Homo sapiens: one gene and its partner. The protein of the gene in region 1 purifies or fractionates together with the protein of each later gene. This does not show direct contact. Each region holds a gene or a part of one and is shown on either strand. Other genes may lie near its edges.

Region 1 (3,500 bases):
TCATGCTCTCCACATTGGGATTGTCTTCCCCCCGGAAGAACTGGTTGTTCCGATCTGTCCGGACCACGTCTTTGTCCACAGTGAACTGCACATTACGCCAGAACGCTCTGTGCTCCTCGGGAGTCATGGAGAGCCTGTGTGGAGCCGAGCACCCAGCCGGGGTCAGCGGGTGGCACCCAGAGGCATCGTGTGGCGCACACACTGCAGGAAGCCACCCTTCCTCCCAACCCCCGTTCCCTGGACGGGAGCTGGGCGGCTGCTGCCGGCTGCAGACCCTCCCCGGATGCGGCGGATGGGTGGCGTGTATCCAAGGCTCTCCTTGATATTAACTCAGCCTCACAGTCTCCAGCGTCCCAGGAAGGAGAGCAAGTTGCAGCCCAGTGGGTAATGAGGCCTTGGCCCTGGCCCAGCGTTCTGGAGGGGAGCTGAGCACAGCCCAGGGGCTTCACCCAGTCCCAGCCTCCTGGAGAGAGAGCTGAGCCCAGTCCCGGGTTAGCAGATCCCAAGTGGGACACAGTCTCCGGATGCCTTCACCCCTCCAGGCCCTGCTCCCAGCCCCAGCCTTCAGCTGTGGGACGTCAGCGCCTAGTTAAGTCTGTTGAACGAGAATTCTAAAACCTTGACATGTGAGCTAACGAGCCCCGCAGCTCCGAGGCCCGAGTGCTTGGTTTAATGACTGCACTTATCCCACCCTATCACTCACGTTCCTGGGAGACCCATTTTTGAAAGAAACTATGGGTCACGAAACATATTATCAATGCTGAATTGCACCTCAAATTGCCTTTTCAAATGACATTTTCCTCCGCGGCTCGGCGGGGTGGGCCGGGCTGGCCCCGGCGGTTACCTTTTCTGCTGGATCTCAGAGTACTCCTTTCGCTTCTGCAGCCGCAGCGCCTCCCGCTCCTCCGACGTGGACTCGTGGCTGTAATAGCGCAGCAGGAAGGGCCAGACCTCCCCGCGGATTGACACATCAATACCGCCAAAGAAAATGGCCTGGAGGAAGCGGCAAAAGTTGGGGAGGGGATAAAATGGGGCAGCTCAAAGAACCCCCAAATCCCCAGAGATGTGTGTTTTGGTGGTTTTTGGTGCGCCTTGATTCAGATCTCTGCAATTTGCACATATTTACAAGGGGAAAGCAGTGGCCTTCAATTCCCATACAGGACACAAACCCGGCTCATTTCAATGTCAATGCCCCCCCTGGGGTGGCGCTCAGATTAACGTGTCGTTCTCACGTCATGGCCTAATCCCTGGTTTTGGAAATGCTGCATTTCACTGCAAACCCTTCTATGCAGGCTGACACGGTATCCCCCCAAACCCTCGAGGGAGGTGTTGTGTTTTGTTTTTTTTTTTCAACGCAGCAGCTTTGATTGCTTTATCGGTGTGTTCACAGAGAGCCTCACACAAGAAAACGGGGCCCTCACGAGGAGGTGGCCCGTGGGTGCGGGCGGGCGGCCAGGCCCCGGCCCTCCTTCCCTCTCGCTCGTTCCCGGTTCCCGGCCGGCTCTCCGCGGGGCCAGCTGGGCGGACCCGGACCTCACCTTCCGCAGCTTGTACTCCTCCTCCACCTGGCCCAGCTCATTCAGGTGGTTGAGCCAGGCGGAGACGCCGAGCCTCTTGTACATGCTCTCCTCGGGGTGCGTCTCGGAGGACGGCAGCTTGGGGCGGCGGATGGAGAACTGCATGCATGTCTTATCGGGGGCGACCTGCTGGACGGGAGGAAAACTGGGCAAAGGTCAGGATCTCAGCCGCGCGGCTTCAGAGGCCAGCAGTGCTTTTCCCAGGAATAAAAGCCTCTCTCTCTTCTGAAAGGAGGGCAAGGGCCGTCCCCTGCATACAAACCCCTAAATGGCGAGTGTAATTAGGCGCAATTAAAATGAAAATACCTTCATCTTAAAATCGGTTTCCCTCTGCGGCTCTCTCCTCCCCGGCCCACTGTGCCGCCGCCCCCCACTCTCTCCAACCCCAGCCGCAAAAACGGAATGAATGCCTCGTTCGGCCTAACTTCCCTCTGCCGGGAGGGCCTGCAATGAATTACATGTGATTGGCCACATACAAAGGGATCGCTGTTCTGCGAGCAGGGAGCCAGCCTGTCAGATTGCCTCCGCGAGCAGTCACGAATCCAGGGCAAAACTGCAGCTGACATTTAATTCAAAAATCAAAGGTTGTTCAATGTAGGGGGAAAAAAAGCCATGCTACTGTAATAAGGGAAGCCAGCAGGAGGCTCTGCGGGAAGGAAGGGAATTTTAAAATCGGCCCCATTTCTAATAAGCACATACAGTACCTTAAACAGATAATTAAAGAGCTCTTATTACATTTGTACGTAGATTGAGCAAAATATGGCAGGAAGTCTTGTCAAAACATGATTTTTCAAGTGCAGGGCACTGACTTTACCGAAAGCCCTGGGCAAAGGTTTCAAACCCAAAGTTGCTGCTCTGACGGCCAAAAACTACCGTGGGTCACACCCCGTAAGCCCCCGGGGCCCGGGGACCCCAGACACAGGACCCAGGAGGGAGATGGGGCCCGTGGGGGGTGGGGAGTGTCAACCGCTGGGCATTCTGGGGCCGTCTGCTGGGCTACCTGGTCTTTGAGCTGCATCTCGGTGCAGTATTTCCACTGCTGGAACACGTCAGACAGCTTGTCCAGGCCGCCGTGGTGGAAGTGGAAAACCTTGTACTGGCTCTCTCGGCTGGCAACGACCAGCTGGCCGCTGGTGCAGGCCTCGTCGCTGAAGGGCCATTGGAAGGGGGAGAGGGAAGCCCGATGAATATGTAAACACGGGGGTTTTATTTCCAAGTATAATCAGAGGCCACTGTCGCCAACCTCAGAAGCAGGAAACAGTGAGTCCCAGTGGAGTTGGCTGCTAGCGGGAGGGGACAGAACTACACCGAACAAAAACCACCACCCCCTTTGCCGAAGATGGCAAAACTGCTCCTTCCTGGGGGGCCCTGGAGCTCCTCTCTGGAGACCTGCCAGAGTGGCCTTCTCCCCACCACCCCCTGCCCGGCAACATGGTCCCTGCAGTCCGGGAGACCTGGGTCCCAACGCTGAGTGCCCTGGAATCCAGTTCTGAGCCCTGGCAGGCCATGTGCTAAGAGAACCTCCTGGGAACAGACCTCCTTCGTTGCGTGTGGGTGGAACTCTGGGAGAACCCTCCAGGGAAACTCAGTAAACATCCGTCAGTGCTGTCAGCCCAGCCCCGGCTGCCCTTAGATGAAAGGCTGGAATGTGGCTCTGGGTCTGGGAACCCCCCCAGCTTCTGGACACGCCGGCTTCTTCTAAGCCCGGGCCTCTCATTGGTGATGTCTGCGGCTGGGCAGCCCTGACTATAAGGAGGAGGATCTGGTGTGGGGAATGACTGCAGGAAACTAGGCATCGCCCACCCATCACGAAAGGAAGGGAGCCTCCATCCGGAAAGCTGCGGCCCGTCCCGCACAGGTGGCCGAGCTCCAGAGCATCCCCCGGCGATCAGAGCCGCCGGCAGCTGCTACCCTCTGCCCTGG
Region 2 (4,253 bases), on another chromosome or scaffold:
TTATACAATGTCAGCTTTCAATTCTAAGAAGGTATATAAAACCTAAAAGCAAGGTGTTCCCCAACCCCCCGCCACCAACCCCGCCCCAGGCTTTGGAAATTTGTGCCCCCATTGAAGAGTATTTTCACCTCTGAACTTTCAAGGACAACTCCTTTTGCCTCATTGAAACTGGCTTTCAAGCTTGGCAACCAAGATAAGAATATTAAGTACACTTATTTTAACACTCAAGGACACTTTCTGAATAAACCAGAATCTAGGGAGATATAAGTGAATAATTTGGACCTGCTCTCTTTGAATGTTTATAATCTGGTGGAAAAAAAATGGACATATGAATATTGATTTGTGACCAGTGCAAAGGGGGCAAAAATTCATATCCCAAAGAAAACGGGGACACATCAGGTCTGTCTTGTTCATCACTGTGTCCACAGGGCCTGACACCTAGTAGGCTCAGTGGGAGAAAGGAGCCCCAATTACCAACAAAAGCCAGGAAAGAACGGGAGGCTCTTACGGAAAAGGGTGATACTTAAACTGAGCAAGGAGGCACCTGGAAATAGTGCCACCTAATAATTTTTGGCGATCAGACTGACACACTAGAACGGTTCATAAGACCAGCCTTCTCCCATTGGCTAGCTTCCTTCCTCACCCTTCTCACCCTGGGCAAGCCGCTTCCTCTCTCTGGGCCTCTTGCTTTTCCTCTGTAACATAAAAGGGGTTGAGCAATATCATCTCTGAGAGCGCCATGTGTGTGCGTGCCAGAGGGAAAACCCCCACAACGCTAATACATCAAAACTGCAGGTTTGCACAAAAACTGAATTCTGCTGAATGCAAACAGGCAAACAGCATTTACCAGGAAACAAAACAAAATCAAGCACATAAAAAAGTAGGAAGAGTTGGAAAACGGAAGGAAGATAAGTTCTCAAACAGCTGGAATAGTTGATGTTAGCTAGCGAAGTTTTTCAGAGGAAAAAACAAGAAGTTGGTTATGAGGCAAGTGGACCTGAGAAAAAAGACTAAAGGGGAAGAATAGCAAGTAAAACAGAACTCCACTTGCTAGATCTCTCCCTCTGTCGCGCTCTTTCACCTGACCCACTCCCTTATTCCCCCCACACCCTTTCCTTCTCTCCCTACGTTACCGCACAGGAACGAAGTCTGGGTCATGTGCGGACCGCTTGTGGCTCTTAAATCCTCTTTTTGTCACCCTGGCCGTGCAAAATTTTGAAACGTCCCTCGGCAAAAAAAATAAAAATAAAAAAAAAAAATCTGTCCCTGGCCTCTTCCCTAGTTCTGGGTCCAGTTGCAGCCAAGTGAGGGGCAGCGCGCGCTCCCAAGTCCCCGTTTCAGAGACGCGCACGCGCCTGGCGCCCAACCCCCAATCCCCTGCTGCTCAGTGACCCCGCCCACGGGTTTCCGGGCCGGCGTAGCTATTTCAAGGCGCGCGCCTCGTGGTGGACTCACCGCTAGCCCGCAGCGCTCGGCTTCCTGGTAATTCTTCACCTCTTTTCTCAGCTCCCTGCAGCATGGGTGCTGGGCCCTCCTTGCTGCTCGCCGCCCTCCTGCTGCTTCTCTCCGGCGACGGCGCCGTGCGCTGCGACACACCTGCCAACTGCACCTATCTTGACCTGCTGGGCACCTGGGTCTTCCAGGTGGGCTCCAGCGGTTCCCAGCGCGATGTCAACTGCTCGGTTATGGGTAAGCCGCCGGCTCGGCAGTCCTCCGGGTCGTCCTTTCTGCCCTTGAGCCCCTAACGCAGCGCCACGCCAACTACCGCTTCCCCCCAGGCAGACGCTTGTGGGTGGCCAGAGCATCTTGACTGGATTCGGGGACCCTTGGGGACCTTCTTCCCCGCCAGGCTCGCGAAGTTAAAGTTCATCTGCTGAGAACTTCTAACTCCACACTTTCTTGGTTATCTTGGGGACTCAACACTTTGATCAAGAACTTTTTTATTCCTCCCGCTTAATTTTGTTTGCTTTGAGAGAGACTTGGGAACTGCAATCGTTTGGTTCTCCAGTCCGATCTGGTAGCGTTATTTTTAAAATTTATTTTTATTTTTTATTACTATTTTACTAGTGAAGATAGATGAGCTCAGAGACTCTCGAGGATATAGCATGAAGTTTTCTCTTTTTGTTAGATGGTGGGAAAGGGACTTTCTGCCCAGCGATTTTGGTTTGAGCGGGTGTTGATGAGTACTAGAAAACGGCTAGTACCACTCTGCATTGTTTCATGCATTGCAAGGAGGTAAAAATTTTTTAAAAAATTAATAACAAAGAAAACTTAACTCTGAACCTAGTAATTAGAAATGCCCAGAGTCTGCACAATGTTTGGCTCATGGAAGGCTCTCAATAAATACCTAGTGTTTGAACATACTGGAGATATTCCATATGCCTTCAGATAACATGGTTACCCCTAGAACAAAGAACCTAGTGAAGGGGGTGGGGTGGAAAAAAGACAATCACTAGTTAGAAGAGTCACACTGTGGTCTACCCAAACCCTCTTACAGCCTGTGACTTCTGCAGAGTCAGTAAAAAATCAGCTATAATTTTCTTGTCAACAGAACAAAGATTAAGTCATTTGTTACTAAAGAAATACCTTTTTAACTGACTGTATAGCATTTCATAATCCTGAACATTGTAACTTTTTTTTTTTTTTTTTTGAGAATGGAGTCTTGCTCTGTCACCCAGGCTGTAGTTCAGTGGCGGGATCTCGGCTCACTGCAACCTCCGCCTCCCGGGTTTAAGCGATTCTCCTGCCTCAGTCTCCCGAGTAGCTAGGATTACGGGCACATGCCACCACGCCCGGCTAATATTTTGTATTTTTAGTAGAGACGGGTTTCACTGTGTTAGCCAGGATGGTCTCCATCTCCTGACCTCGTGATCCGCCCGCCTCGGCCTCCCAAAGTACTGGGATTACAGGCGGGAGTCACCACGCCTGGCCTTTTTTTTTTTTTTTTTTTTAAATTTGAGTTTGAAGGTTGGGGCAGAAAGAGATCAGGATTTGCACTGCCCTGTCACATGCAATCTCCCATGTCAGAGCATTACTCTCAAACATGGAAAAACTTTAAAATACACAACTCTCCAGATGGACACAGCTGAATCATTTTCAGGAAGGCTCTGCCTATAAAATTACCTTTGGCCTTAATTCAGTAATTAAAGGCACCCACAGGTCTGAGCCCTCATCTATGAAGGTTAAACGTATCATTCCTATCAGCACTAATTGGTTTTATAGGATACAGACCTCTAGTTTGCTGAATAAACTTTGGAAGGATTCAGATTATGAGGTTCTAAACTGTAGAGCCTTTGAGGAGAAAGGTACCCCATTTCTTCTCCGAATAGATCATTTTGTGTCTTCTCCTGGGCTTAGCACATTGTCTTCCTTAGGATCTGATAGTCTGTTTATTTATCTTTTTGTTGTCATACCTTTTATTCTTGCATTTCCCACTTTTGACTAGCATTTTGCCTTTTCTCCGTTTCTGGAAGCCTGTAATTTTCAACATTCCCCATTTCTCCTTTTGTTCAGTGGAAAAATTTCTTCAGTGTTGGGATGCTCTGGAAAGGTACTGTAGTTTTGGGGGTCTCCCTGCCTGCTGGGCTGCATAGCATATCTCTCTTTTTTGAGACAAGGTCTCACTGTGTTGCCCAGGTTGGAATGCAGTTGTGCAATCATAGCTCACTGCAGCCTCCAACTCCTGGGCTCAAGCAATCCTTCCACCTCAGCTTCAGCCGCTCAAATAGCTGGGACTACAGGCAATGCACCACCATAACCAGCGAATTTTTAAAAATTATTTTTGTAGAGACAGGGTCTCACTATGTTGCCCAAACTAGTCTTGAAGTTCTGACCTCAGCCCCGCAAAGTGCTAGGATTACAGGCGTGAGCCACTGCTTCTGCTTGCATTATCTCAAATTTTTAGAGCCTAACTTCACAGTCTTGCCTCGGAGCAGGAACTGTTTGAGGCAACAAGATGGAGCCTCTGGTTTCTTCACTAGGCAGACTGTGCTCAAACTGGGTAGCATGAAAGGAAAGCAGCACAATTAAAATTGAAATTGGGGGATTCTTTCCCCTATTGAAATCCAAATAATTTTCCTTTATTGTGCTTTTTTTTTTTTTCTTTAGGACCACAAGAAAAAAAAGTAGTGGTGTACCTTCAGAAGCTGGATACAGCATATGATGACCTTGGCAATTCTGGCCATTTCACCATCATTTACAACCAAGGCTTTGAGATTGTGTTGAATGACTACAAGTGGTTTGCCTTTTTTAAG

What was found. Proteins that work in one complex are often made in the same cells at the same time.
Region 2: the proteins of TBC1D16 (region 1) and CTSC purify together in Homo sapiens (affinity purification with mass spectrometry; one large-scale study listed by BioGRID and IntAct). This does not show direct contact.

Annotation. Positions count from the first base shown.
Region 1 is NC_000017.11:79,948,873-79,952,372, forward strand, and holds part of TBC1D16 (TBC1 domain family member 16), read right to left. Parts: intron 2,726-3,500; coding exon 2,578-2,725; intron 1,982-2,577; exon of another isoform or gene 1,890-1,981; coding exon of another isoform or gene 1,884-1,889; intron 1,723-1,883; coding exon of another isoform or gene 1,707-1,722; coding exon 1,539-1,706; intron 994-1,538; coding exon 845-993; intron 135-844; coding exon 1-134. UniProt on the Homo sapiens protein: May act as a GTPase-activating protein for Rab family protein(s).
Region 2 is NC_000011.10:88,334,937-88,339,189, reverse strand, and holds the start of CTSC (dipeptidyl peptidase 1 isoform a preproprotein), read left to right. Parts: upstream 1-1,453; 5' UTR 1,454-1,517; coding exon 1,518-1,689; intron 1,690-4,107; coding exon 4,108-4,253. UniProt on the Homo sapiens protein: Thiol protease. Has dipeptidylpeptidase activity. Active against a broad range of dipeptide substrates composed of both polar and hydrophobic amino acids. Proline cannot occupy the P1 position and arginine cannot occupy the P2 position of the substrate.